Linked DNA regions of Homo sapiens: all the other regions are reported to be linked to region 1. The links are microRNA targets in miRTarBase. Many come from high-throughput screens and were not tested one by one. Region 1 holds a microRNA gene; each other region holds the end of a gene's coding sequence. Distances are between the middles of the regions.

Region 1 (7,000 bases):
ATCATAGGTGAAGACTGAAAGCCTGCTGTTGTTTGTAGCTGCTTTTTCCTTTTTTTTTTTTTGAGACGTAGTTTCACTCTTGTTGCCCAGGCTGGAGTGCAATGGCGTGATCTCGGCTCACTGCAACCTCCGCCTCCTGGGTTCAAGCAGTTCTCCTGCCTCAGCCTCCCGAGTAGCTGGGATTACAGGCGACCACCACCACGCCTGGCTAATTTTTGTATATTTGATAGAGACGGGGTTTCACCATGTTGACCAGGCTGGTCTTGATCTTCTGGCCTTAGGTGATCCACTTGCCTTGGCCTCCCAAAGTGCTGGGATTGCAGGCATGAGCCACTACCCCCGGCTCTGTGGTTGGTTTTGTTTAATAGCTGAAACAGGTATCCTGGTGATGCTACTATGCTGCTTAGTTGTCCTGACACATTATTTTTTCAGTGTTAATGGTATGTCATATTTTTACTGTTAAGTACTTAATGTATGAATAAATGTAAGAAAACAATTGCCTATTGTTAGCATGTAGATTAAGAGTCAGGAATGATGACTCTTGTTGACATGGGTGGCTGAGATAGTGACACCTTTGCTTTCTGATGGTTCAGGGTACACAAACTTTATTACAGGCACAAAATTATCAAAAATACGGTATAAAATTACCTTAAGGCTATGTATATAAGGGATGTGTGTATGTGTGTATACACACAAAAATAAATTTTGTGTTTCCACTTGGATCCCCTCCCTAAGATAACTCATTGTGTACATGCAAATATTAGAAAATGCAAAAAAAAGAAAAAAAAAGAAATCTGAAACAGTTCTAGTCTCAAGCATTTTGGATGAGGGATACCCATCCTCTATTTTATCACCATTTTCATGCTGTATTAAAATGAAATTGCCAACTCAGTTCAAAGGAATTTTTCTTCTTAGCTTTACATTGTTGATTCATGGTGGAGGCGAACAAACTATCGACTGGTGGGTTGGATACCTTGGTCCAGAGAGGTCCTTGTGACATATCTCATGGCCCATTACCTAGGTGATGTGAGTCTTGCCTTCTGCCTGCAATAAAGTTTTGTTGGAATGCAGCTATGCCCATTTACTAGTGTATTGTCCATAGCTGCTTCTCTGCTACAATGTAGATTAGCAGTTGTAACAGAGACTATATGGCCCCCCCAGGTTAAAGTATTTATTAGCTGTCCTTTTATAGAAAAAAATGTCCCACATCAGATTTATGGAAATGTCTGTTCCTTTGTTTACGTTTTGCCCATGACTTTTTAACACTTTCACAGACATTATTGTTCATTATTATATGTCAGAAATAAACTCACTTTTTGTAAACTTTCCAATGGCTGTTGAATTTTTTAATTGTTTTGAAATTGGTTTCAGAATCAAACTCTTGCCTGTAATTTAGTAAAAGCAGATAATAATTAAACCAAGTAAATGTTTCTTTCTCGGTTTCCAGATTTAACTTAGTTATATCATTTTAGGCCAGCCATTGCCAGCTGAAATGACACTTGCCCAGCTTTTAACTCTCCTATATGACCGAAAACTTCCTCAGGGTTACCGCTCAATAGATCTGACTGTTAAATTGGGATCAAGAGTTATAACAGACCCCAGTCTATCAAAAACAGATTCTTATAAAAGACTACACCCTGAAAAAGGTATGTGCATAATACTACTTTAAAAATTACAGACTGTCATACAAAGAGGCAGAGATTTCTATAGCTAATGACTTAATTGACTTGTGTTTTTATTATATCAACATAAGATATAATTTTTTTATGACTGAATTTTTGTAAATATAAAAAATGGCCATTATTTCATTTGGAAACTAAGTTGCATTATTTCTTATAACATCATTTGTTTTATGAGCGCATGTACTTTAATTTCTGATATTTCTGTGAGAGCTATGTGAATTGTCATTTTATAATAAAAGTGAGAAACTCAACTTACAACTTTGTTATAATTTATATTGAGTGGCATTTCTTGCATATAAACATGTTTTCTCATATAATTGGGATCACATATTTTTGTTTTTTACTTATATATTCCATTAATTTTTTTTGAGACAGAGTCTTTTTCTGTCTCCCAGGTCGGAGTGCAGAGGCACGATCTTAGTTCACTGCAACCTCCGCCTCCCGAGTTCAAGTGATTTTCCTGCCTCAGCCTCCCGAGAAGCTGGGATTACTGGCACCCACCACCATGCCTGGCTAATTTTTGTATTTTTTGTAGAGAGAAGGTTTCACCATGTTGGCCAAGCTACTCTGTAACTCCTGACCTCAACTTATCTGCCCGCTTCGGCCTCACAAAGTGCTGGGATATAGGCATGAGCCACCGCACCCGGCCCTTATATTCCATTAAATATTTTTGAATATCCATTTTTGAATTGGCTATTTTTTCATAAAAATGTAAGAAAATTTATTTGTTCCCCAATCATCGAAACATTGTGGTTGTTTCCAATTTTTACTCCTATAAATGCTATATAAGTAGTTTTCATAGTGTGAGTATGATATGAACTTACTTAAACTTTCCATCTTTCTCATGACTAAAATTCAGTCTTTAGTTATTGGTCTTTTGTATTCTTCAGCAAATTTTGGTACATTGTCTTTGCCCAGTTTTTCAGCACGATTATTTCTCTCTTTTGTTTTAATGTTTAAAGGGTCTGGTTACGTGACCTTTTGGTTTTCTTTGGTGAGTAATTCAGAGTTAAACTAATATGGTATAATTTTTTGTTTTAAGTAAGGGAAGTCTTTGTCATTAATTTTTCTTAATAGGATACTTTAGAGCATATTATTTGCTATGAGAACTTTGAGAACTTATTTATTTTAACATAGGATATACGTTAAAGTATGCCCTAAAGGACAGTGCTTCTCAAACTTCAGTATGCTTACAAATGACCAGCATCATACTGTTAAAATGGAGATTCTTCATTTCAAACTAGCTTGCAGGTGATGCCAATACTACTAGTCCATGAACCATTCTTCCAATAACAAGACTAAAGAAGGCAGTATCAGAAGTCATTTAAAGGTCATTGTACCGTCTAGCCATAATACAGCTATATCTAAATAAATGATGTTTTGTGCTCTTTTTTGAGTAGCAAGAAAGCAGTAATACCTGCTTTTGTAAATGAAAGAATATTATAAAAATATACCCTTTCTTACCTATTCAGTTATTTGTAATTTATTGTCTAGATCATGGAGACTTACTTGCTAGCTGTCCAGAAGATGAGGCTCTCACTCCAGGTGATGAATGCATGGATGGGATACTGGATGAATCTTTGCTTGAAACCTGTCCAATTCAGTCACCATTACAAGTTTTTGCAGGAATGGGTGGACTGGCTCTTATTGCTGAAAGACTACCCATGCTATATCCAGAAGTAATTCAACAGGTAAGATAAGATTTCCTAATCGAGTATATCATTCCATAGCTAAGCCCTTCATTCTTTTTAATGTTTGTTTTTTAATGTACTTGGATTAACTTTGTAGAAATACCCTTTGCTTTATATTTTTTGAACATTATATAACTCTTTCAATGGTCAGTCTGTACAGAGCTTCATGACCTTCAGTAGGTATGGAAGAAATGTTGAAGATCAAGCACACTTGCCAGACTTACTACACTGTTGCATTTATCTTGATTTCATGGTTGTAACACTAGCATTCTCTTTTCTATGCTGCTTTAAGTGTGATATTTATTAGAGATATTATTGGAAATAGGAGAAGTAAAATAGCAGTGTATACTGCCACCAATATATGTCTTTTTGTTTACCTTTTATTCCTGTTTCAGGTGCCATTTCCATTTTTGGTGGTTTAAAAACATGACCTATTCCCGTGTTCATTTACGAAGCTGTCAATGTCTGTGCTTTCCATGCTCTTGTATCAATCAGTAGGAAGTATGGTGCATGGAGAGTTGTAAAAACAAAACTTTGTGTTTGTTGAATGAAGTAGGGGAATTATTCTCTTTGATTTCATGTCGTGTGTGTGTGTGTGTGTGTGTGTGTGTGTGTGTGTGGTTATTTTGGTATAGTAGCTCTAGACTCTATTATAGTTTCCTGAGCTGCTGTACCAAAATACCACAAACGGGCTGGCTTAAAACAACTGAAATTTATTCTCAATAGTTGAGGAGGCTGTAAGTCTGAAATCAAGATATCAGCAGGGCCATGCTCCCTCTGAATTCAGGCTGTAGGGAAGACTCCTTCCTTGCTTCTTCCTGGCTTCTATTGGTTGCCAGTAGTTCTTGCTGTTCATTGGTTTGTAGCTGAATCACTTTAATTTCTGCCTACGTCGTCATATGGCCATCTTTCCTGTGTGTCCTTGTATCTCTTTCTCCTTATAAGGACACCAGTCATTTAATGTAGGGTCCTGCAAACCATTATCTCCTCATCTTAACTTGATTACATCTGCAAAGGCCCCATTTCCAAATAAGGTCATCTTCATAGGTGCTAGGGGTTAGGACTTGAACATATCTTGGGAGGACAAAATGCAACACACAATAATACTTATTCATGTTATTGCTTCCCTAGTATTCAAAAATATAAGATGATATAACTATGTTATAAGGTGATTGACACAGAATGAGCAAAATTTTCTTACTAGACAATGACATAATTACTCAAAAGTTTGAAGCAGAAAAGACCCCAACATTTTCAGCATTATTATTGCTCAACATAAATGATTTTTTCTAATTTAGTATTCAGTGTGGTTCACTATATTGATTAGTAACTGGAAATGGGGTCCTGGTAATACATACCTAAGAATGTGAAAGTGACTTTAGAATTGGGTACTTGGCAGAGTATGGAATAATTTTGAGTAGCATGATTTAAAAAAAAAATCTAGATTACCTTGAATAGATTGTTAGATAAAATGTGGATGATAAAGCTTCTGCCAGTGAGGGCCCAGAAGGAAGTAAGGATCATAGGGGAGAAAACCTACAGTGTCTTAGAGAATATCTGAATTGTCATAAGCAGACTTGGTAGACATACAGGTGTTTAAAGTGCTGACAAGGTGGTTTAGAAGGAAATGAGGAACATGTTACCGGAACCTGAAGGAAAAGGGATCTTTGTCATATAGAAGCAGAACTATTAACTCATTTGTGTCCTAAATATAGAAAGCAGCACTTCTGCTGTAATGAACTTGGATGTAATGAACTTACATGTAATGAACATGTAATGAACTTGGATGTTTAGCTGAGATTTCCACACAAAGTGGTGAAAGTACAACCTGTCTTTTTCTTGCTGCTTATAGTGAAATGTGCGAGGAAAGATATAAATTGAGAGAAGAACTGTTGAAAAACAAGCAATCAGTGCTTGTCAATTTGTGAAATTACCTATCCAGATCACAGAAGGTGCTAAAATTTAGATATTTGCTATCAGAAAAGCATGCTCCAAAGTATAAGCCAAGAGTGAGGCTGGACAACCTTTTGCTAGTGCCTTAGAAACATCAAAAGTCAGAGTATTCAGTCACATAGAGGGCTCTTTGAAGAGATTAGGCATGTAACTCATGGATCTCCTCAGCCGTCTAAGCATAAGCGAGGAATAGAGGATATGATGTGATGATGGAAGCATCCAAGAGCCATGGAACGTAAGTAGCCTCTGGAAGCTGGAAAAGGTGAGGAACTGTTATTTCCTAAGAGCCTCCAGAAGCAATGCATCCTTTGATTTTAGTCCCATAAGACCTGTTTTGGATTTCTGACCTCTGGAATTTTAAAATAATAAATTGTGCTGTTCTGAGCCACTGAGTTTGTGGCAATGTGTTATAGCAGCAGTAGAAAACTAATACAGAGTTTGGTCTGTAGTTGTAATGCCTTTGTCTGGTTTTGGTGTCAGGATACTACTAGCTATATGGGATGGGTTGAGAATTTCTAATATATCAAATTAAGGATACTGTTAGGTGTGTTTAATAAGAGACACTGTCTGGGCATGGTGTAATCCTAGCCTGTAATCCTGTAATCACACTTGTAATCCCAGCACTTTGGGAGGCCAAGGCAGGAGGGTCACCTGAGGTCAGCAGTTCGAGATCAGCCTGGCCAACATGGTGAAACCCCGTCTCTACTAAAAATACAAAAATTAGCCCGGTGTGGTAGTGGGTGCCTGTTATCCCAGCCGTTCAGGAGGCTGAGGCAAGAGAATTGCTTGAACCCGGGAGGTGGAGGTTGCAGTGAGCCGAGATGGCTTCATTGCACTCAAGCTTGGGTGACAAGAGTGAAATTCCATCTCAAAAAAAAAAAAAAAAAGAGACACTGCAGATTGCAACAGTAGTGAACTGGAAGATGTATCAAAAGAAATCATTCGGCTTGGCGCGGCAGCTAATGCCTGTAATCCCAGCACTTTGGGAGGCCGAGGCAGGCGGATCACCTGAGGTCAGGAGTTTGAGATCAGCCTGGCCAACATGGTGAAACCCCATCTCTACTAAAAGTACAAAAATTAGCTGGGCGTGGTGGTGGACGCTTGTAATCCCAGCTACTCGGGAGGCTGAGGAAGGAGAATTGCTTGAACCCAGGAGGCAGAGGCTGCAGTTAACCAAGATCGCACCACTGCACTCCAGCCTGGGTGACAGAGCAAGACTCTGTCTCAAAAAAAAAAAAAAAAAAAAAAAAAAAAATGGTTCAAATGGAAGCATAGAAAGTGTAAGGAATGAGAAGAACATAAGAGCTGTATGGACTGAAGTGAAAAATTCTAACTTACATGAATTTATAGTCCGAGAAGAAGAGTGAGTTGAAACATGGACAGAAACAGTATTGAGAAGAAGAAAAATTTCCCAAATAGATGTAAAACTTAAATCTCAATTCAACATGTAAGAAACTGTTAACTCATGCAGGATATGCATGCCTGGAACTGTCATGGTAAAAGTGGTTAAAAACAAAGACAGCTGGCCACTGCAGTGCATCTCTGAAATCCCAGCTACTCAGGAGACTGAAGCGGGAGGATTACTTGAGCCCACGGGTTCCAGACCACCTGGGCAACATAACAAGACCTCATACCCCCAAAAAAGCAAAAAAAAAAAAAAAAAAAAAAAAAAGC
Region 2 (7,770 bases), not on the chromosome of region 1:
CAAAGTGCTGGGATGACAGGCTTGAGCCACCACGCCCGGCCTCTTCTCTTCTAAGGACACCAATTGTTACGAGCTGAATTGTCCCCCCTAAAATTTATATGTTGGAGCCTTAACCCTCAGTACTCCAGAATGTGACTATATTTGGTGACAGTCTTTAAAGAAGTAATTAAGAAGAGGCCATCAGAGTGGGCCCTAGTCTGGTATGACCGATGTACTTGTAAGAAGAGATTAGGACACAGAGAGGCAGGAGGGGTAACTGTGACAAAGAAAAGAGCCTGTGACCAGGCAGCAGGAGGGTGGCCATCTGCAAGCCAAGAATTGAGGCCTTGGAGGAGAGTCCTGCAGCACCTCCTCCAACTTCCAGCCTCCAGAACTGTGAGGGAATAAACGTCTGTGGTTGAAGCCACCCAGTCTGTGGCATTTTGTTACGGCAGCCCTAGCCAATGATACAGTAATCACATTGGCTCAGGGCCCACCCTCTGCGCAGATCTCATCTTAACTGGGTTACATCTGCTGAGATTCTATTTCCAAATAAGGGCATATTCACAGATACTGGGGGCAGGACCTCAGCACATTTTGGGGGACACAACTCAACCCCTAACAGTCACCTTGAGTGCAGGCATCGGTTAATGAGCTTAGCAGATATTAAAGCCGGGCGCAGTGGCTCATGCCTGTAATCCCAGCACTTTGGGAGGCCGAGGCGGGAGGATCACTGAGGTCAGAAGTTTGAGACCGCCCTGGCCAAGAAGGTGAAACCCTGTCTCTACTAAAAATACAAAAATTAGCCGGGCGTGGTGGTGTGTGCCTGTAATCCCAGGTACTCAAGAGGCTGAGGCAGGAGAGTGGCTTGAACCCAGGAGGCGGAGGTTGCAGTGAGCCGAGACCGCGCCACTGCACTCAGCTTGGGTCACAGAGTGAGACTCCATCTCAAAAAAAAAAAAACCAAAAAAAGCAACAAAAAGAGATATTAATGCCATCCCCAGAGGCTCATGCCTTCAGCTGGGCTCAGCCAATGGGAGGCACAGGCAGAAAGACTGGTGGGTGGGAGGAGACTAAGGTCATTTATCGTGGTCCTTCTCACTGGGTCACTGAGAGCTGGCGTCTCTATTGAAGGCTGGTCTCTGTCGGGCGGCCCTCCCCCCAGGTCCTGGTAACTGCTCTCAGGTTTGGGGGCATTAAAGGTTCCCCGATGTTGCTAGCCACCCGGATTGTATCATGCCTAACCCTGTCTGCACCCTGGCAAACAGCTCGTTTACTGAACGCTCCTCAGCCAGCCAATTTGAGATGCCATTTCCGGCTGATACAGGCCATGTCCTAGGCTCTTTTGGGATTCAGGTGGAGTGTATTGGTCAGAACAGGAGTCTTCACATTTGCCGGGTAACTCTCTTGCTTATAAATTTTGGGGATGATCCTCAAAGATCAAGTTGGGGCAGTTTTGATCCAGATGGGGAGAAGTTTCACAGACGCAAAGATGTATACTAAGGCTGTGTGACCCGGAAGACTCCCTTCTACTGCAAATGGCCAGTTTCTTCCCCTCCCTGCATCTACGCCTTTGCAATGTGACTCGACAGCTCCTCCCACCGAGAGGCTGTGCCTTCCTCCAGCCTTTGCGTTGGGACTGGCCTTATGAATTGCTTTGACCCGTGGGAAGGTAGCAGTGTGGAGCAAGCAGCAGCTTGAAAAACTTGGGCACACAGTCCTTGGAAATGAACAAATCCGGGTTAGCCGCAGATGCAGAAACACATGGGCCAGTCGCCTGTCGCCCAGCTTAGCGCCAGCCAGCGGGCAGATGTGGGGGAGGCCACTGGGCCCTGCCAGCCGCCAGCTGACCACAAGCATGAGTGCAGAGCCAGCCCAGCAGAATCTTCGGGATAAATGGTTGTTTGAAGTCATTATGTTCAGGGCAGTCCAGATGCTGGAAACACTGAGCTGACCATCTTCCAAATCAGAGGTCACCCTGGCAAGCTCACTTCTCTTGCATTTTTTCATGATGAGCCCTTTTTATTACAGCGTTTGCCATTGTTTGGGTGATGATGAAGAGAAGCCTGAAGTGAGCTGAGTGGAGGCTTGGAATAGCTACTTCAAAGAGAAGCGGGCTTAACCTGTATCAACATCTGCAGACGTGCTCTCCTGAAGCTGGTCTGGTGGCACTGTATGACCCCCTCTCAGGATGCTGAAGGCAGCAAGGGGCCAGTGAAGGTCCCTCAGAACCTGCAAAGGACCACGTAGACCCCAAGACGGACATAGCTACTCAGGAGTGTTAGGAGCTGTACTAATACTGAACACTAGAGTCTCCTGGTTTGTGGTTGTTATGGATTGAATGTATGTGTCCCCCCACAAATTAGCATTTGAAATCCTCACCCCCAAGGTGATGGTATTGGGGGGGTGCCTTCGGAGGTTAACTAGGTCATGATGGAATTAGTACACCTATAATGGGGGCCCCAGAGCTCTCTCCACCACGTGAAGACACAACGAAAAGTTGGCCATCTGCAGCCTGGAAGAAGGCCTCACCAGAACCCGGCCATGCCTGCACCCTGATCCTGGACTTCCAGCCTCCAGAAACAAATGCCTGGTGTTTATAAACCACCCAATCTGTGGTACTATTACGGCAGCTAAGACAGAGGAAAAGGTTGTTTCATCTCTAAATTATTTCCTACAACTTCCAACCCCTACTTCCACAGAAGTGGAATCTGTAGCTACAGAATAAACCTAAGTTAGGTCTTCGTAAGTCACATCATTTCTTACTGGAATGTGTATTTCCCATCTATGGGCCTTCATCAGCTATCGTCATCTACTTCTGTGGCCATGCAGTGCTCGTCTTCCCCCACAGATGTCAAGGCCCTCAGGGCGGGGCCTGTGTTTACACTGTCCACAGCATCCTCGGCACCCCCAGGCCCATTCTGAGCCTTTAGTTCCCCAGAGCCCATAATTTTCTGTGAGTTCTTCGAAACAGAGCATTTGAATTGGGGTATGAGACACTGATATTTTATCATAAGCCACGATTACCCGTCTACAGAATCACTAGAAGATGCGTTTGCACATATGTGGTATCCACAATGCCACTTTCGCCACGTGACATTAGTGATGGTTTCCTTCTTGCCTTTTCTAACTCCATGAGGTGGGCGCTTATGTCAGGGCTTGTTCTAGTTGCCGGGGATGCACCCACACACCAAAGAGACCACTCCTTTTGTCTTGGAGTGAAGAAAAGACACAATTACAACGAAATGTGACAGTTGTGCCAGAGGAAGACTGGATGCTCCGAGCACACACAGCATTCACTGCAACCTGACTTCTTCCCCTTAGTCAGGGGAGAAAGGGGGAGACACACTGTGTCAAATGTGGCCAAGAGAACAGGTCTAAAGACAGCTCTGGGCACCCCAGGGGTTTCAGGAAGGTGAGAAAAAGCAGCAAAAGAGAACAAGGAGTGGCCAGAAACGTAGGAGAAAGCCAGGCAAACTCGGTGTTTTGGAAGCCAAGGGAGGTGTTTCTTCAGGAGTGCTCAAGGACCGCAAAGGATGCTAACTTCAGGCGAGGACCGAGGCGACCCATCACCCCCTGCCACACGTGACCTGAAGAGCAGCTTCAGCAGAATGGATTTAACAGCAAATGCAGGAAGAGAAATTAGGGAACACAGAACACTTTTTCAAGACTAGAGACCATGGCACAACTGGCAAAGGAGAGAGGTGTGGACTGTCACGGGGGCTAAGATCCAGTGTGTAGAGTGTTCCAGAAGGGAGGGCTGCGAGGAGGGGCATGTAGGAAATGTGCTGTCAAGTCAAATACAGCGAGACCAAAATTCCACTGGCACGAGAAATGGGATGAACTCAGTAAGGGCACCTTCCACATCGCTAAGGAGTAGGGTGAGAAACGCCCACCCAGAGGCACCCAGGGCTGCGCATTTGACGGGGCCTTGCTCTTTCCAAGAAGAGACAGACTTGGCATGTTACCTATCTGAAGGGGGCGCAGAGTGGAGTCCCTGAGGAGAGGATGGGATCCAGGCGGTGATGGGATCCAAACGTGGTCGTTCAAGTCTTTTCTCCTCAAACATTTAGCCAAGGGCACAACTCTATCTCCTAAGCATTCCAATTGAAGACTCTTGTGTGTTCTGCCCCACAATTTACTCATGTTGCTCCATGATTGGGATAGGGTGCGTCACACATTATCTAAAACTTCACAGCTCCCAGTGTCTGTCCCAAACTCCTGCCAACTGCCAGGACACACCGCGAGCCCCACAGCAGCCTCTGCTGGTGGACAAGGTGAGCACATGGCCTAGGTTTGAAGCATGGTTTTTATGGCTCTGGCCGTCCCTTCTTCCCCAGGGGCCTCAGCTTTTGGCATTTGCACCTCTGCCCCCAATTTCTCATTTTTTCAAGAAAGGTCCAAGACCTGCTTTCCCTGGCAAGCTCAGTCCACCTTTCTGAAATGCTTAATGCCCTAGATCTGTAATGTGATTTTCACTGTATTATTACTTCACATAACTTTTTTTTTTTTTTTTTTTTTGGAGATGGAGTTTTGCTCTTGTTGCCCAGGGTGGAGTGCAATGGCACGATCTTGGCTCATCACAACCTCCACCTCCACCTCCCACGTTCAAGCAATTCTCCTGCCTCAGCCTCCCAAGGAGCTGGGATTACAGGCATATGCCATCATGCCCAGCTAATTTTTTGTATTTTTAGTAGAGACAGGGTTTTACCATATTAGTCAGGCTGGTCTCGAACTCCTGACCTCAGGTGATCCACCCATCTTGGCTGGTGGGATTACAGGCGTGAGCCACTGTGCCTGGCCACATAACTGTTTCATTAGCTGCAAGAAGCTTCCCACACCTTGATGACTTAAGGCCTTTGGCTAATATGAACACAAGGATGAAGTAGACTACAGCGAGTAGCGTTGTGGACCAGTTACTAAGCCCATCTAAGCTTCAGTTTCTGAAAACCAAGGTTAGTAACATACCCGTTTCATAGGATTCTAGGGGGATCAAACAGAAATGGACACTCCTGCCACGTGGTAAGTGCTCTTCAAATGCTATTACACAACGCAAGTTTCCCCTCCCCTCCATTATCTCCTAATCATTCTCCCTGACACCCTCCTTCCACCCCTACCAAAAGGTGCTAGATGCAAGGGGGGCATGCAGAATTCAAGCACTGTTTCTCCCCATGGAAAAAAATCAGGTTTCAAGGTAGTCAGTCACATCTAATAGTGTACTTAAACATACCCCTCTACTTTTTGTCGTTTATTTCTATTTATAACAAACTCTTGTGTTGAGGGCTCTTGATGGACGGCAGCAAGGGAGCTGCTCTGCTGCATATGAAACCCCGACCCAGAGCCCCTCTACTCATGCGATGTGTAGTTGACAGCCACTTCACAAACATTTTCAGCTACAGAAAATATATTCAAGGAAGAATGTTAAAAAGTTTCCTTATAACCTACAAGGGGTTCTCTCTAGATGTAAACAAATCTGGATGAAATATTTTAATCCAAGTATACCATTTCCCACGTCGTAAATCTTCTGGGCTGGTGGGAGCCAATCCAGTTACACACTGGAAGGGGAGTGAGGGTCCCAGGGCTTCCCCACACCTCACAAGGCCCACCCTTGTTTCCACTGACCCTCTCTTTGACCTGAAACCCCCAATTGCCTCCACAGGCAAAACAAAACTCAAATCTCTCTAGACTCAAAGACTTAAGACTATGCCAACCTATTTGTTTGTAATTACACTGCTCAAGGCTCCTGTTTCCTCTCCTTCAGCCATTCTCCAGAGCGCTCCTCAAGAGATTTTAAGTCTCTCACAGCCAGACTGTATTTCCCTTGGTCAAGAAGCAACCACGGAATATTCTACCTGCAGGAGATAACAAATGTTGACTAATTTATGTATGAGACCATTCTATAGTACTTTTGCAGCGAATTACCCCCTATTCTGAAGGTTAATGTTTTTCCTTCTGATGATCTAGACGGGGTCCACACACTACAGCATTCAGCCCAAATCCAGCCCATGAGCAGAGAATCTTTTTTAAAAACAATCCTTTAAAAATATAAAAACCTAAGACTATGTGACAGAGATCATATGTGGCCTGTAAAGTCTAAAATATTTACTGTTTGGCTCTTTATCCAAAACTGCTGATAGTGCCTCTGGACAAGAGCGTAAAAGATGAGTCATGGCGTAAGGGAATAACTGAGAGGTCACGTAGAAACCTGGTCAGCCTATGAGGAACCTTGAGGCACGATGTTTCTTTATCCCAGTAATTCGGCAACTCGACTCCAAGCACCCAATTTTGTGGATGAACCCCAAGGAGTCTGTCAACTTTCAAAATCACGGCAGCTGTCTGCCACTTGCCAGACTTATTTTGGGTGAGTAATAATAAATAGAGAAATAAGTAATAGTTAGAGGTTGTAATAAAAAGCTATTTAATGTTTGATAGACAAATTGAAGTCCATAAATCTCCTTGAATAAAGATGCTAAAAATGTTATTCTTGTTTTTTAAATAGTTTCGTTTTTACAAAGTTCTGTACATAAAAATAAATATACAGAAACAAACCCCATCAACTGTCCACATCAGTAATCCTCACTGGTGGGCTCACCATTGATAAGGAAGACATCATTCAACGCAACCTGTCACAGAGACTGTCCTAGCAGCAAGGATTTCTAACCTCAAAAGAACATTACTAGGCCTCTTTTATCAAGATTGCTAATCATCTAGAGGCCTTTACCTACCAACTAGCAATTAACCATGAAATCAATGAATGCAATCACTGTCTCCAAGTAGAATGTGACCAATGACCTCATGCCTAGAGGCAACATCTATACCTTTTGCTGACTGGAGCCCTGACATATGCAGGTGTAGTTAGGAACAGAAATCAACCCCACCTCCCCTTGGCTAGTCACTGTGAAAAGCGTGCGTAAGGCAATTGAATCGAGGGTTAAGGGTTCATCTTGCTAATGTCAAAAGTGACACTAACAAGATTCTTAGCCTCATCCGCCAGATGACGGGCCTCTGCGTCCAGGTCTCCAGGAGCAAGCTCCGCCTCCTTCACCAGACAACGGGTTATAACCTGGGAGGACAGAAAAGCAGCACAACAGTATTGATAAAAATCTGAAAATCTGGGAACATTGTATATCCACAATAAAATTATGAGAGTGACACGCAAAGCACTGCAAAGATACAGATCCTAAGGGACATTTAAAAAAACCTTTTAGCTATGTGAAAAAAAAAAAAACCTTTATATTGTGATTGCCATTTGAACTGATTGTCTGGTGGGGAAAAAAGTCATTCAGCTTCTTTGTCCCAACCTCCGAAACACATGCAAAAGGGTCACCAAAAAACTCTCTCAAGAGGGCCTGATTTAAGTATATGAATCCTCCTATCACAGTGCTTACTAAAACTCATACATTCAAATAAGGGCTGTTCACGCTACAGAAAACAGATTAAAAAAAATCAAGAGTCAAACTTGTCACTTCTACCAGTCAGAACGGGGTCTTCTGTATCCTTCCCTACCCCCAACCACCCCACTCCCTCATGAGCTTCCCAAAGTCAGTGCACAACTGGTAACCTGGTTGAGTGCTAAGGTTCTAGGGCCACCCAGAACTTAAATGTTACTTTTACTCCTTACTTATAGTGGAATCTTTGGGCAATTAAACACTGTGCCTCAGTTTCCTTATTTGTAAAGCCAGGCTAGTCAAAAGTCCCAGCTCAGAAATGCTGGGGATGCTGAAAGAGGCCGTGCAGGCAAGCACACCCTGCATTCCATCTTCTACGATTTCCATTCCTCTCCTAAATATC
Region 3 (7,722 bases), not on the chromosome of region 1:
CACTAGTCTCACTGTGCCTTTGCCATCCGATCTTTCTGCTGTCCTCAACTCTCTCCTTCCAGCTGCTGATGCCAAGGCCCCACCTGCACTGGGACCTGCTCCTCTTGGGCGGGCGGCAGCGTAGACGCTGTACACTTGCAGCTCTCGCACCTACCACCACCGAACACTGTGAATTCTCCCCCTTGGGCTGAGGACAGCTTGAGGGGGTGAGTTGCCTTTGAGGTGGGCATCAAGAGGGCTCAGGGGTTCTGTTGCACCCTGGAAGCCTCCACGGGCAGGCACTGTGAACCCCGACGGGCAGGGCAGTCTCCAGCAGGATCCCAACGGCACTGATAGCTCCCCAGGGTTGGGCTGGGCTCTGTGTGGCTCCCTCCTCCTGTCTGCTGTACTGAGCCACAGCTGGGCACCGTTGCCAAGAGCTAGCTGACTGTTCTCACCTCTCCTGAACCAACCAACCACTGTGACCACCCAGTGCCAGAGTCCCCAGCACTCTGCTCACAGCCGGCCTGCAGCCCCACCCCACTGTCCTCCGCTACTCCGAGGTGCTGGCCTCACTCTCATGGCTAGGCCCTTGTGAGACCTTGAGCTCAGTGATGTGGCTGGACCAGGGACAGACTGCTTTCTGTGAGGGCCCAAGATATGCGCCAGGCCCTTGGGTCCGTGCTGACTGCCCCACTTGGGGCTCTGGGTATCTGAACACTCACAGGCTGGCTCACACAGCAGGTGTCTCAGTCCTGATGGGCCTTCCCCTCCAAGGAGGTGGGTGGCATGTGTGTGGACAGCCCCTCTATCTTCGCCATGGAGTCTCAAGGCCTGGCAGCCTTGGGCCTGGCTCTGGAGTCTAGCTCACTGAGGAGGAAGGCCTTCCGTAGAACCAACGAGGAGGCGGCCTGTGCCCTGCACACACGGCGCACCTTCTTCCCTCACAGAACAGAGCTGCTGGAGGACAGGGACCTGGACCAAGTGGCCTCCATTGTCCTCTGGGAGCTTTCTGACACTCTCCACGGTGGGGGATCACAGATAGACAGCGCCGTCCAGCATGCCCCTGACCACCTCCCTCAGCCTCCTGACTCCTCCGAAAGGAGAGGCCGTCCCATCGCAGCAGCTCAGAAGCTGGGATGGTGGAGCTGAGTCTTTGAAGAGGCACCCCATTCTCCAGTGTGGGCAAATCAGTTTGGATGGCAGGAGACAGGAAGGAAGCGGCGCCCATAGGCAGCCGTGCACACATAGCAGAGTCCACTAGGAAAGCCAGTCGGCCAGGGCAGTCAAAACCCAAGTCGATAAACTGGGTGGGTCCTGCGTACCCACCCATCCTTGTGCCTTCCTGAGCAGAGTCACTGAGCCAGAGGCAGTGGGGGCTGCAGGCTGTGGGTGCTCAAAGCAGGCATGGAGGGTGCCCCGGGGAGGCTGTGAGGGATCGTCTGTCCTGCTCTGTGTTTCCTTTCCATTTCCTCCACCGTCCGCAGGCCCCATTGGTTAACCCTTTCCTCCCCCCATTGTTTGCTTCTGCCAAGCTGAGCCACTGAGGAACCACACTGTGCTGCGGAAACATAGACGTGGGGGCATAGGCTCCCACTGCCACCACCGCCATCGCCTCACCTGCAGCTCTGAAGACCCAGGCCTCACCTCCGCCTGCAGGACCTCCTCTTGGCCACTTGGCCTGGGCCTGCCACCACCACGTCCTGCAGAACGAGCCCTGCCTTGGCTGTGGAGAAGCACTCCAGGCCGCTAGCAGATGGGACTGGCATTCCAGAGGGTCAAGAAGTGACTTGTTCAGAACACATTGTTTTTAACAGAAAAAAAATCTTTTTATAAAATGAACTTTTAACACTTGGCTCAAACCTCTAGGTCATACTGCCAATCTTTAGACAAATGGCCATGGGGCAGAGGACAGGGGAGCTGAGGTTGGTTCAGAGGCCAGCCTGCATAGCCTCTGTCCTCAGGACGGAACTTGGGTGCAGCTCAGTGGGTCGGAAGAGAAGGCGGTGGCCTGTGGGTGAGGGGAACGGAGCAGGCTCAGGCAGAATTGAGTACGGTGCGTCTGCTTTTCAAACCCAACCATATCAGCTGCTGCTCTTTATGAACTGCCCAACTTCCTGTCCCTTTCAGGGGCTAGACACAGGCTTCTCGTAAGAACACAGCCTTAGAGGCACCTGAGCAACTCAAAGGTTTCCGGTCCATTTCTGGGGTTCCCGATGGGAAGGTTCAGTGGCCAAATGAAGATAAGTGTGCAGTTTCTAGTGCTGGGAAGTCTTAGCCAGCACCAGAGCGCCAGGCCTCTCCCTGGCCTCTTACCTGTCAGTGATCGGAGCACTGCCCTGGGCTGGCCGGCGCCGTACTGCCTGCGTTGTGTCAGAGAATAGGAAAAGCAGCTTTGTTTGGGGCATTAATGCTTGGAGTGGGGTCAGCTAAGGTTGCTACTTGCCAATTTGTGATTTGTCTAATCAGCCTGTGTGATTGGGGCTCATTTTGATTCTCTGAATTATCGGTTTGACGGTTACACTTGGCTGCTGGGCCCATCCCTGGCCCCCGGTGTGGAAAAGGCTAAATAAGGTGACAGTGCATCGATGCTCCCCCGCGTGGCCTTTGGGGCAGGCTGGCATCCCGGTGCGCCTCTGCTTCTTAAGCTTTCCTGCTGCTCGCTTTGTTTTTAAAAGTAACTTGGGTTGCATTCTTCCCTCTGGACTAGAGTAGAAATGCAGGGGAAACTGCTGTGGATTTGAGAGGCAAAGTTGGCTCAGCTGTGTGCCCAGTTCCTCCTGTGGGCACTTTAGCAGGCTCCGAGCTTTCCTGGCATAGGTCAATCAGGTCCCAGGATGAATAATCCAGGCTTCAGCAACACTCCTCTTTCCCAGCCAGCAAAGGCTGTGAATTTGAATTCTTTGTTGGTATGTATGTGCAGGGAGTACTGTTAGGCACATTCTTAACCCATGTGGTTGGCCAGAAATCAGAAGTGGGGCTGTGTCTCTGACTGGCTAGAGGCCAGGCCTTGTGGGTTTCTATCTGCTAAGCACCCAGCAGGTTGGGGCCTGGGACTCAGCTCTCTCTGCGGTAGAGGCAGGCCCTCCTCCACTTCTTGGTACTAAACGAAGATCTCGACACCTTGCAGTTTTACTTCATTTCCTGCCCCTTTCAGGGCCTGTGAGGATGCCCATGAGCTACCGCTGTACAGTTCTCGGCCCCGGCTTTCTTCCAAGAGTTGACCAGGAACCCTAAAGCATCCAGAGTAGACTGCGCTGCCACTGCGCACATGCTGGTGCCCGTCTTCCTCCTAAGGGGCCAGGCCACATCCAAGTGGGCCTCTGTCGGGGGCGGGGCGGTAGGTCCGAAAGAAACCGCAGACACTACGATGCACTCCTCAAGCTGTCTTTTGTGCTTAGATCATCCATAGGTGTTTCTTCTGCTTGAAGCTGCTATATCATCTTTATTTATTCAGGGTATTTTCATATTGGAAGCCTTGGCTAGTCTGCTCTAGCTCTGGGTTCTGTTTAGAGATTGGTTTATTTCTGAATATTCAAGAAAGGAAAATGACTGGGCCTTTCTTTCTTTTCTTCTCCTCTGGGATGGGTAGTCTCCCTTTCCTAGAAAGGTTATTATAACTTTAAGGACAGGCTTCAAGTGGGAAGGCCCCTACTTTTGCACTTCTCCAAGTGCAGGTCACACCAGGGGCAGACCCTGTCGCTGCGTTTCTGAACTGTGAAGGAGCCCATTCGGGTGGGAGACTTCAGATGGGCTCAGTACCTGTCCCAGCCACAGGCTTCTTGTCCACCTCTTCTCCCCTGCCCACCAGCTGCTCAGCGCATAAGACCTTCCCGACAGGCTCTGCGTGTGCAGCTCTCTGCGTCCCTCCTGGGCCCTCCAGCGTCAGACACTAATGGGAGTTCCCGAGATGCTCGGGTTTGAGCAGGGAGCAGGCAGAGCTGCAGTCAGAGACATTAGAAAACCAGTCTGAATTGGGTCTGTCTTTGAGATGCCCAGGCCAGCAGAAAGCAGCTCAGAAGTATTGTTGCTCATGGTGTGGCAATGGACTGAACTGTAATGAAAATGTTATTTAATCTTTGTCTCTGTATTTTGATACTTGAATGACTTTCCCTTTTGTTTTACTGTATATAAAATTGTTAATCTGTCTGATTTTGTCTGAATTATAAACACTTTGAGGTACCAAACATAACCAATCTGTGCAACAACATAGACTGACCTCAGTACCCAAGAGAGTGTAAATATTTCTGGGCTTCCAGCTTTGGTTTTGTTATTTTCATAACTGTACACAACTTAGAACAGACTGAATTAATAAATGAGAAGCGACATGAACGCAGCCTTAATTCTTCTGAGTCTTTGAATTGGAAAGCGTCTTGATGGTTTTCTGGCAGAGGCGTGGGCACAGGCGAGACGCAGGCTCAGGATCAGTGATTCGCATCCTACACCGTTTGGCTGAGATGACGACAGCTTGGCTGTTTGGCTTTCTGTCTCGCACTCTCTAACAAACAGTTAGTTACAGCTGTGCTGTGAGGCGCAAGGGCCCCAGGATTCACCTTCCCCTCCTTAGGAACATCGTTCTGTGAACACCAAGCCAGGGCCACATTCTAGTTACTGCTGCAGTGGCATCTCTTCTGCCTCTTGGTCTGGGCTTGTCCACCCATAGACATGAACCGAACATCTGCCTCCCAGGCAGCCTGGGGGATCTAGAGCTGTGAAAGAAAGTGCTCTCCTTTCAGGAACTTGCTTGGATTGCAGAGGTTAAGTTTTAGACATAAACAACTAGCTACCAGCCCGAAGCCGTGCTATGGTAGGGATGCAGAGGGCAAAGTGTTCCCAGAGGGCTGGTGGCAGGGAGAGGAAGGGGCAGGGTGCTGAGCTGTATTTAAAGGGGAGAATTTGGGAAAGCACAAGCAAGCGGTCATAGCGGCCCCTTCACTGATTGACGGAGCACCTTGGCCCCTTCACTGATGGAGCACCTGTGTTCCAGCTCTGCTAGCTTTCCAGGCAACCATCTCATTAGCCCCACTCCTTTCCGGACAGGTGTTGTCACCTCTATTCATAAAGCAGGGCCCAGGGCCTCTATTCATAAAGCGGGAGGGACCTTGAGCCCCATCTGGTCCAGTGGCTCCAGCTGCCAGAGCCCCTGTTCCTAGGCCTGTTTCAACCCCAGCTGCCTAGCACTGAACGCTTTTATTCCTGAGTTTCTGTGGACGCTTCCGTTTCTTAAAAGGGCCTTAAAAAAGAAAATTCACTTATCTAGTTCAGTACCCATATTGAACATAAACAATAGTTGTTTATGTCTAAAACTTAACCTCTTTTATTGGTAGAGAAAACAAGGTCCAGACTTGGAAAATGATTCTCTCCTAGCCAGCCTGCCAGCGAATGGCAGAGAGCCAAATCCCAGGTTGTAACTCCCAACTAGGGCTTTGTAGGCCACACTGCGTTGAGTTGGGAAAGTCCACTGAGGCCCAGTGGGGGAGGCCTCACATTCCAGAGGGGTTCTTCATCCCCACATCCCTTGGCTCCCTGGCTATGGCGCTCTTTCCTAAGCAGAAGAAACCTGACAGCCAGAAGAGAAAGGTCAGGTCATAACTAGTGTCATCAGGGCACCAGGACACATAGCTGCTATCATCATCCCTTCTGGGACCACCTTACACATTCTGCCTCTGTGTGAGGCACAATCCCTGGCCTCTTCCACTCATTCCTTTCTCCCCCTTCAGGGGCTCATTTCTGTCATACTCCTCCACATCCTCATGAGCCTCCCCTTCACAGATGCTCAGGCTCCTAGACAGCTGGGTTGTTACTACTGAAAATTGGGATAGATCAATCCTCAGCAATGACCAGGCCACGGAGGAGGAACTTTCAAGCTGGAGCACTTTCCAAGGCAGCTCAAAACACCCTCTAGTCAGCCATGGCCACCCCTGACTTCCTGAACCCAGAGGGTATCCAAGTCCCATAAATAGGGACAGGCCGACTATCTAGTGTGTCATGCAGTTCAGCCTGGGGCTCACACTGCACCCACTGTCATCAACTAACAACAAGGAAAGCTAAAGTCTGAACCATCCCTTCCTCCGTGCAGCCTCTACGACTTTGAGACCGCTTTTTTCAGGATTCGGCTGTTAGGAACACTATTATAAACAACTATTTACCAAATAGAATTTTCCTAACACCATAAAATATTTATTACTCAGTAAATGGAGCTGGGACAATTGGGCAGCCAAGGAGGAGGGAGTGCAGGGAGATTCCTGTTCCAACTTATGCCAAAATAAATTCCAGATGGCTCACATATTTAAATGTAAAAACAAAAAAACAAACAAAACTCAAAGCTAGAAGAAAATGGGAGGCTTTTTTTTAATAAGCGTGGTTTGAGAAAGGCCTTTCCAAACGTTATAAAACCCTGAATCCATTTTTTAAAAAGGATTAATATATTTGAGTCTATAAAAACTAAACATTTCTGCATAGCAAAATGCACCTTTGAGAAAAAGAAACAATGGAAAACTAACATGTGCACCACATGTAACAAGGACACCTTGACAACAGCTATCAAAAGTAAACTAACGCCTATGTCTCGGAAGATCAGTAGATGCTCTTTTCCCTGCTCTTCCCACTAAGTACGATTAAAACCCCCAGTGGAAACACCAGTGGGCACAGACAAAAACCTGTTCTTCCCAGCCAGAGGACCAGGAAAGGGGCAGCTTAGCAAGACAGAAAATTTAGACAATAAATAACTGCTCTACTCCAGCCAAGCACCACAGGAAAAATGGGGCCCCACCCAGATCAGCAAAGGCCAAGACCTCTGCCCTCACAAAGCTATAATGAGGTGCCCAACAACCTCACGCATGTTGTCAGAGGGGGCCTGGTGAAGAGACAGAACGCTCACCAGCGCCCAGTGATTGTGATGCTGCTCCCGCCTTGGGAGTCAGTGGAAACTACAGGGGCAGCCGGGAGTGCCACGGCACCCCAGCAGTAACAAGCAGCCTCCCACCTCAGGTGTCAGTGGAGGCCAGGTGGGGAAGCTGGGCTTTGACCCCCAACCTGGCAGTAGTATGCTATTTCCTTTTCCCTTGCTAGAGTGGTGTCAAAGTCAGCTAAAAGAGAAGGTTTAAATAAGAATGAGAAACAGAAATGTCCAAGTTTCAATAGAAAATCACTTATCATACCAATATCCAGAAAACTCTCAATCTGAATTTAAAAGGCAGTAATCAATAGATATCAACACTTAGCCAGACATGGTGGCACAAACCTGTAGTCCCAGCTACTCGGAAGCCTGAGGCAGGAGAATGGCTTGAGCCTGGGGAGGCAGAGGTTGCAATGAGCCGAGATTGCGTCACTGCACTCTAGCCTGGGCAAAAGAGTGAGACTTCGTCTGGAAAAAAAAAAAAAAAAGATATCAGCACCAAGATGGACAGATATTAGAATTATCTGACAAATATTTTAAAGCAGCCATAAGAAAGTTTCAACAAATAATTATAAACACACTTGTAGCAAAAGAAAAAGTCAAATGTCTGAGCAAAGAAATAAAAGATATAAAGAACCTATTGGAAATTCTAGAACTAAAAAAATACAATAACCAAAATCAGTGGATGGGCTTAAGAGTGGAGTGGATGGGAAAGGAAAGAATGCACCATAAACTGGGAAACAAAACAACAGAAATTACCCAATCTGAACAACAGAGAGAAAACAGATTGAAAAAAATGAACAGCATCTCAGGGACCTGTGTGACCATAACAAAAGATCTAACAT
Region 4 (7,485 bases), 210 Mb from region 1:
GGCGAGCAAGCGGGCGGGAGGCCGTGCGGGGCTGGGATTCAGTGCCCCGCTCCCCGCAGGCCCGGAAGCCCCTGGTGGAGAAGAAGCGGCGCGCGCGGATCAACGAGAGCCTGCAGGAGCTGCGGCTGCTGCTGGCGGGCGCCGAGGTGCGGCGGCCGGGCAGGCGCCGTGGGGCTGCGGGGCGGGCGGGCGGGTCCGGGAGCGCGCTGCCGGCTCACCGCCCTTCCCGCCCGCGCAGGTGCAGGCCAAGCTGGAGAACGCCGAAGTGCTGGAGCTGACGGTGCGGCGGGTCCAGGGTGTGCTGCGGGGCCGGGCGCGCGGTGAGTGGCGGCGGGGCGGGCGGGGGCGCCGGCCGCGGGCGCCTGTAACCCCTGCCAGACGGAGGACTTCCCTCCCGGCGCCCCTGTCCTGTCGGCGGCGAGGGCTCCCACCGGAGCAGGGTGCGCCCCCGCGTCTCCTGGGTGAGCCGCGTCCCCGCGGGCCGGGTGGGCTGGGCCACGCAGTCGCCGCTCACCGCGCGGGACGCGGCTCTCTCCCTCCCACCCTCGGGCCCAGAGCGCGAGCAGCTGCAGGCGGAAGCGAGCGAGCGCTTCGCTGCCGGCTACATCCAGTGCATGCACGAGGTGCACACGTTCGTGTCCACGTGCCAGGCCATCGACGCTACCGTCGCTGCCGAGCTCCTGAACCATCTGCTCGAGTCCATGCCGCTGCGTGAGGGCAGCAGCTTCCAGGATCTGCTGGGGGACGCCCTGGCGGGGCCACCTAGAGCCCCTGGACGGAGTGGCTGGCCTGCGGGGGGCGCTCCGGGATCCCCAATACCCAGCCCCCCGGGTCCTGGGGACGACCTGTGCTCCGACCTGGAGGAGGCCCCTGAGGCTGAACTGAGTCAGGCTCCTGCTGAGGGGCCCGACTTGGTGCCCGCAGCCCTGGGCAGCCTGACCACAGCCCAAATTGCCCGGAGTGTCTGGAGGCCTTGGTGACCAATGCCAGCCAGAGTCCTGCGGGGGTGGGCCCGGCCCTCCCTGGATCTCCTCCCTCCTCCCAGGGGTTCAGATGTGGTGGGGTAGGGCCCTGGAAGTCTCCCAGGTCTTCCCTCCCTCCTCTGATGGATGGCTTGCAGGGCAGCCCCTGGTAACCAGCCCAGTCAGGCCCCAGCCCCGTTTCTTAAGAAACTTTTAGGGACCCTGCAGCTCTGGAGTGGGTGGAGGGAGGGAGCTACGGGCAGGAGGAAGAATTTTGTAGAGCTGCCAGCGCTCTCCCAGGTTCACCCACCCAGGCTTCACCAGCCCTGTGCGGGCTCTGGGGGCAGAGGTGGCAGAAATGGTGCTGGGCACTAGTGTTCCAGGCAGCCCTGGGCTAAACAAAAGCTTGAACTTGCCACTTCAGCGGGGAGATGAGAGGCAGGTGCACTGAGCTGCACTGCCCAGAGCTGTGATGCTCTGTACATCTTGTTTGTAGCACACTTGAGTTTGTGTATTCCATTGACATCAAATGTGACAATTTTACTAAATAAAGAATTTTGGAGTTAGTTACCCTTGAAGTATTGTTGAGTGATGTGTCATTACTGTGTCAAGATATGTAAATGCTAAACTAAGCACATTTCCCCTGCATCTGAGGCTGGTGAATGTCCTTTAAAACCTCACCCTTTCTCAGCAGAGTGAGCAGTGTGATGGTGGTGGGGATGCACTCCGTGGCTGTCTCTGCAGCAGGCAGTGCTTCTGCCCCCCATGCTAGGCAGGTCCTCAGACCCAGCCTGTTCTTGGGCATTGTGTGTCCTGGAGAAGGAGTTTGTTTGCATGAGGCTTGTCTCCAGGGTAACTCAGCAATAGGGAGATGACCTGTCTCTGTGCCATTTTCTTGTTCATGAGCTTCAGGAATAATAAAATAATGCCTAATTGCTACCTATTTGGTTTGAAAGTATCTTTTAAAGACCTGTTTTAGGACCCACGAGCATGACATAGACATGAGTCTACTTGTGTGAGGTTGTTGCTTATCTTGACTGAAGAAGGAACTTCCCCACTGCTGCCATTGACTTCAGGGTCAAGGAGACCCACCCAGTTTGTGGCCTGAAATGAAAGCGCCAAGGCCCCAGGGGGCTTGAGCGTTAGGTCAAACTGGGTCCAGGAGGTCAGAACCCTCAGGGATGGAGGGTGGCAGGATGGGCAGCTGGGGTGCGGGAGCCTGCCCTCTTGGGCTCGGCCAGACCTGCAGATAGCACGTGGTCAGCCGGCTGAAGTCACCGCCACAGTTAGCCTAGCCCCCTCCTCCTGCTCCAGGACCCCAAAGCAGCAGCTTCTCACTGTGGGTTGGCAGTCCCCAGGCTAGGGCCAAGGTGTGACAACTTAGGATTGACGTCGGGGTCTCCTCTCTGGACATGTGCTTTTGCCTTAAGAACACCTTTCCCAGCAGCCCCTTTACAAAAGCCCCCAAGCAGGTCCTGGCCACCAGGGGTGTTTCAAAGTTTGAGGTTCACTCTGGCTCACCTCAATTCAATCATAGAAGCCATTGGGCTATAACCAGATGCAGCTTTATCATCTGGAGCCGAGCTATTGGGGCAGTGGGGGAGCCAGTGCCACAGAAGAAGTCTTGAGCAATGGAAATATCATTCCTGGGATTATTTTAATGTCCTCAGACAGGCTGATGTAGGATGTACCCACCAGGACACGGATGGATAACGGGCCATCCTGAAAGCCCTGGTTTCCAGTAGCACCCAGAGGCCATGCCAATGAGCTCTCATGCCATTCAGGGAGCATCAGCCATGGACTGCTTCAAAGGAACAACTTTCACCTCTCAAGTCCACTCATCACACCTTCCCAGATGCCCTAGGAGGGGGTCAAGGGGAAGCCCAGGAGGCAAGGTGCAGGAGGCTGACCTGGAGTAAAAGCGTTGCTAGGACCAGAGTCAGAAGCCACTAACCCAGAACTCTGGCCCTGTGCCCCTCCAGCCCTAAAGTCAGCTTCACAGTAATCCTCAAGTGCAGCTTCTTTTGGAAATGTAACTGGCTCCCACACCAGTGACCACTGTTGGCCTCCTGGGGCTGAGAGCTGCTCTTGCCTGCGGTGCAGCCTGGGGCCACCAGCTTCCCAGCCAGCTGGTTGTTTCACACCAGCTCCTCTCCCAGCACCCCCAGGCTCCCCACAAGCCCTTCTCTGAGGGCTGTCTCCTTCCCACCCGGATCCCTTCTCTAAGGGCTGTCTCCTTCCCACCCGGATCCCTTCTCTGAGGGCTGTCTCCTTCCCACCCGGATCCCTGACCCACTGTATTACTTTTCTATGGCTGCCAAAACCAACGACCACACTCTTGGTGGCTTCAAACACACGATTATTGTCTTGCAGTTCCACGGGTTAGAAGTCTGTCAGGATTCACTGGGCTAAGATCAAGGTGTTGGCAGGCAGGGCTGTGTGCCTTCTCCTGCCTCTTCATTCAGGGGCCACCCACATTCCTTGGAGGATGGTCCCTTCCTCCATCCTCAGAGTTCCTCGGAAGCATTGCGTCTCTCTGACCCTTCTTCCTTGGTCACGTCTCCTCCTTACTTCTACTTTTAAAGATCCTTGTGATGACACCAGCCCCCTGGAGAATCCAGGATAATCTCCCTGTATGAAGGTCTTTAGCTTAATTCTTAATCACATTTGCAAACTCCCTTTTGCCATGTAAAGTAGCATATTCGCAGGTTCTGGGAACTAGGATGTGGTCATGAAGGACATTCTCTGTGACACCTGCCTGCACCCTGGCCCAGGCGTTCTGCCTTCCATCATGAAGCAGTGTGGCGCCCGCTTCCGACATGGGCATGGGCCCCCATCCCTGCTCACCTGCTCAGGGACTCTGCTCTCCACTGCACCATTAGCTTCTCCTCCCTTCTGGATCATTCTCATTAACCTACAAACGGGCTGTAATATGAATACCTTTACTCGGAAGAACCTCCCTGGATGTGACATACTGTTAGCCTCTGTCTCAATGCTCTAAAGCAAAATTCCTTGAAAGCGTCATCTACACTTACTGCCTCCACTTCCACGCATCCCATTCCTCTTCATTCCTTTCCAATCAAGCTATTGTCCACCCTTCCACTGGAACTGCACAGTCAAAATCTCTAGTAACGAGCATGTTTCCCAACCCAGTGGGCATGTCCGCATGTCAGCTTCACTTCTCGTGGGTTATGACTCATCCATCTGGAGGCTCCTTCTCCAGTCTCAAGGGCACCACACCAGCCTTCTTTCTACCTCATCGGCCATCCTCAGTCCCCTGTACTCAATGCTCCTCCCTGCCGACCTCCAACTGGACGTGTTCTTCCCAAGGCTCTGTCCTCAGCCTTCCCTGCCGCCCTCCAACTGGACGTGTTCTTCCCAAGGCTCTGTCCTCAGCCTTCCCTGCCGCCCCCACACCCAGTGACACCATCTGGCCCGTTTTGCCAATCCCATGCCCTTGATTCAAAGCCCCTCTCCAGGCGGCTGGCTCCTCTGTATCCTCCTGTCCACTCAGTGACTGCACTTAGATGTCAGATGGGCTCACACCACCACCAAAACAACAGATCCTCAGGCATTACCACTTCTTGGTACCCCATGGATTGAGCAAAAAAATCTAGATGTCACCCTCAAGTTCACCCTCTTCCTGCCATCCCACGTCCTATCAGTCAAGCCCATGAGCACTACTTCTTCTTCTTTTTTATTTTTATTTATTAATTTATTATTATTATTATTATTTTGAGACGGAGTCTCACTCTGTCGCCCAGGCTGGAGTGCAGTGGGGGAGATCTAGGCTCACTGCAACCTCCGCCTCCTGGGTTCAAGCAATTCTCCTGCCTCAGCCTCCCAAGTAGCTGGGACTACAGGCGCCAGCCACCACGCTCGGCTAATTTTTTCTATTTTTAGTAGAGACGGGGTTTCACCGTGTTAGCCAGGATGGTCTCGATCGCCTGACCTCGTGATCTGCCCGCCTAGGCCTCCCAAAGTGCTGGGATTACAGGCGTGAGCCACCAAGCCCGGCGGAGCTCTACTTCTAAGCCCTGCCTCCACGTGTCGTCTTCTTTGCCACCGACCGAGTCCAAGGCAGCCTCGTTTCTAACCTGGGCCTCCGCAGCAGGCCTCTGACTCCCCTCCCACTCCAGTCCTGACCGTGACCTTCAAGACTCTACCCGGTTCAGCACCGCCGCCCCCCGGGGCTCCTCCCTTCCAGCCCTCCCTACGCTCTGCTCAGGCCTCTGCAAGTGACCCGAGAGCCAGGACCCGGACGGTCTCGATCAGCCAGTCGCCCAGCCCTTGAGCCCTTCCGGGACTGCCCGGAGCCGGCGCTGGGGAATACCGAGTCCCTTGGAGCCGGGTTCGGGGGGCGCCGTGAGCTGGGAGGCGCTCGGAGGAGCCGAGGCCTTGACCACGCCCCCTCCAGCCCCGCCCCGCCAGAGGCGAGCCGCGGGGCCTCCTGGGAGATGTAGTTCCGACCCCTTTACTTAGATTTTTGGTTTTTTTTTTTTAAATCAGTTTTATTTAAGAATTTCCAACAATGACAACTCTTATAAAAAGCATCCAAGCACAGGACACAGAACTGCAGCAAACAGCATTCTTATGGGTAGCTAACAGACATTAGAACTTCTACCCTTCTTTGAGACACCAGAGTTCACTGCTGAACTCTGCTTCCAAGTCCTCCTGCAAAGCACACCACAAGCTCAGTCCATGTTCTCAGCCCATCAGCTTCAGTTCACATTGCCACACTTACATATCAGTAACAGAAGAGAACACACACCATACAGCATTCACAGCAGTTGACAAAGGGGTAGGGGGAGTACAAGTATCATTTCACTTAACACATTCAAATAAAGTGGGTTATCTAAGAACAAAAACTCAAAGTCTTCCAACAGATGTGGATGTCCTTTGAATGCAAAAAACATTCGTACATTATTTGCTATCATTGCTGTCTGCACACTGTCACCAAAGCCGCAGGATTGAGAAACACATCTCGCCAAGTTAAAAAATATCCGTTATGCACCACCAAGTCTCTGCACGTGCTCTCTCCTTTTCTCACTCATACTAGCCTTTCATGCCTCAGCACCACCGTCAATCCCACACAAGGTTTCAAAAGTTCAAACAGCCTTCTAGTTCCATATCACAGCCTTGCGTTCACAGCGTTGATACGACTCTATGAAATAAAGAGTAGCAGATAAAAATGGGACACCCACCGTCAAAGACGCGGCCTGTGATGCGTGATGACGAATTCTTGAATGAGAAGGCATGTAGACAGAAGTGTTCCTATGGCAGAATATTTACAGCACTACTTTCAACCAAGTGCTTCTTCCATAAACATTTGAAATGAGATGAACTGCAGAGATTAAATGAAGGCTTCATATTGTACTTTTGTGTTTGAGGGGAGACAAGTGTTAAAAAACAAAACAAAAGAACCAAACTGTGACACCATGATCTTCTAAAAGGAGATTTTCTTAAGGAAAAAAATCCATATGGTGGGGTTCAAATTAAAACAAGGAATAAAGAATGTAGTTCTAATTCATGGCTTCCATTTTGAACATGCAAAGAACTCACTTGACAAGTCCAGGGATAAAATATTACAGGAGAAACCTTCTGATATCAATTGTAGTGTGTTGGTTTACCAATCAGGCAAACAGCAGTTCACTTTCAACCACTCAATATTTCAACCTTTCATGTAACAAAACTTATAAAATTCCTTTAGCTGTTCCTTTTTCTAAAGAAAAATGTCAAAAATACTACTGAATATACTCCACACTGAAGAAACCAATTTTGAAAATTCTTAGTACATATGTATTTTACAATATACTTACCATGAGTTTAGAAAAATTTGAATTCCAACCATTCTATACCAACCAACCACAACCCCACTGTCTACGTTCCCAGCCAGAAGACTTAGAATCCATGCTTGAGCCAAAGCCGCCATTAAAACCACTGCCCGACCCTGCATTGGATGCTGATCCCCAACCAATTGTTGCACCAAAATTAGAACCACTACAAGAGTTATTTCCAGAACCGAAGGCCTGGTTTGGCTCCCTCTGCATGTTGCCTTGGCTTTGGTTATCATCCGATGGGCCTGGCTGCTTCGCTGGCTGGCTAACACACCCATCGTACACCAACTGCTCTGCAGCACTGCCTGGGGGGCAGCCATCATGGCTGGATTAATGCTGAACGCACCAAAGTTTATCCCACCACCCATATTACTACCTTGATTGTTTCCCAAACCAGCTCCACCCCCTCTACTCTTACCAAATCCACCCTGATTCCCAAAGCCACCTGGATTACCACCAAATCTTCCACTTCTTGCTGTCTATTGCTATTGCGCTTGGGTTCGGCATTGGATATGTGAACGCTGATTCCTTTCATCGAGTCCTCTCCACAAAGAGACCGCGCAATCTGATCATCTGCAAATGGAACAAAGGCAAAGGCCCTGAACGGCTTGGGGACGAAGACATCCATCACATCCCCATACTGAGAGAAGAACTCCCACAGCTCATCCTCAGTCATGTCCTCCGTA

The links. The annotated mature microRNA hsa-miR-558 reads UGAGCUGCUGUACCAAAAU and lies in region 1 at 4,035-4,053, shown strand. An mRNA with a match to its seed (bases 2 to 7 or 8) in the 3' UTR can be bound and repressed. Matches are read on the target gene's strand: a 7mer-m8 pairs with bases 2 to 8, a 7mer-A1 pairs with bases 2 to 7 and ends in A, and an 8mer does both.
Region 2: the mRNA of SELENOS is a reported target of hsa-miR-558. The part of its 3' UTR that is shown has no 7-base or 8-base seed match.
Region 3: the mRNA of ANKS1A is a reported target of hsa-miR-558. Seed matches in the 3' UTR shown: 7mer-m8 at 1,602-1,608, 8mer at 1,958-1,965, 7mer-m8 at 3,831-3,837 and 8mer at 3,990-3,997.
Region 4: the mRNA of HES6 is a reported target of hsa-miR-558. Seed matches in the 3' UTR shown: 7mer-m8 at 1,187-1,193.

The regions. Positions count from the first base shown.
Region 1 is chr2:32,528,179-32,535,178 of GRCh38, forward strand. MIR558 (microRNA 558) reads left to right here and starts at 3,975; the gene lies at 3,975-4,068. BIRC6 (baculoviral IAP repeat containing 6) reads left to right here. Exons shown (of 74, transcript NM_016252.4): 60 at 1,473-1,646; 61 at 3,177-3,373.
Region 2 is chr15:101,265,815-101,273,584 of GRCh38, forward strand. It overlaps SELENOS (selenoprotein S), which reads right to left. Exons shown (of 6, transcript NM_018445.6): 6 at 6,377-7,042. The coding sequence ends at 6,957. Among named protein-coding and RNA genes, the nearest start is that of SELENOS, 7.8 kb to the right of the region's middle. RefSeq lists an enhancer at 1,257-1,791.
Region 3 is chr6:35,087,092-35,094,813 of GRCh38, forward strand. It overlaps ANKS1A (ankyrin repeat and sterile alpha motif domain containing 1A), which reads left to right. Exons shown (of 24, transcript NM_015245.3): 24 at 1,515-4,315. The coding sequence ends at 1,518. Among named protein-coding and RNA genes, the nearest start is that of TCP11, 50 kb to the right of the region's middle. RefSeq lists enhancers at 375-1,202, 1,203-2,028.
Region 4 is chr2:238,232,322-238,239,806 of GRCh38, reverse strand. HES6 (hes family bHLH transcription factor 6) reads left to right here. Exons shown (of 4, transcript NM_018645.6): 2 at 60-146; 3 at 239-320; 4 at 556-1,540. The coding sequence ends at 980. It also overlaps the pseudogene TARDBPP3. Among named protein-coding and RNA genes, the nearest start is that of HES6, 4.0 kb to the left of the region's middle. RefSeq lists silencers at 1-46, 4,994-5,083, 5,234-5,363 and enhancers at 770-1,338, 5,064-5,565.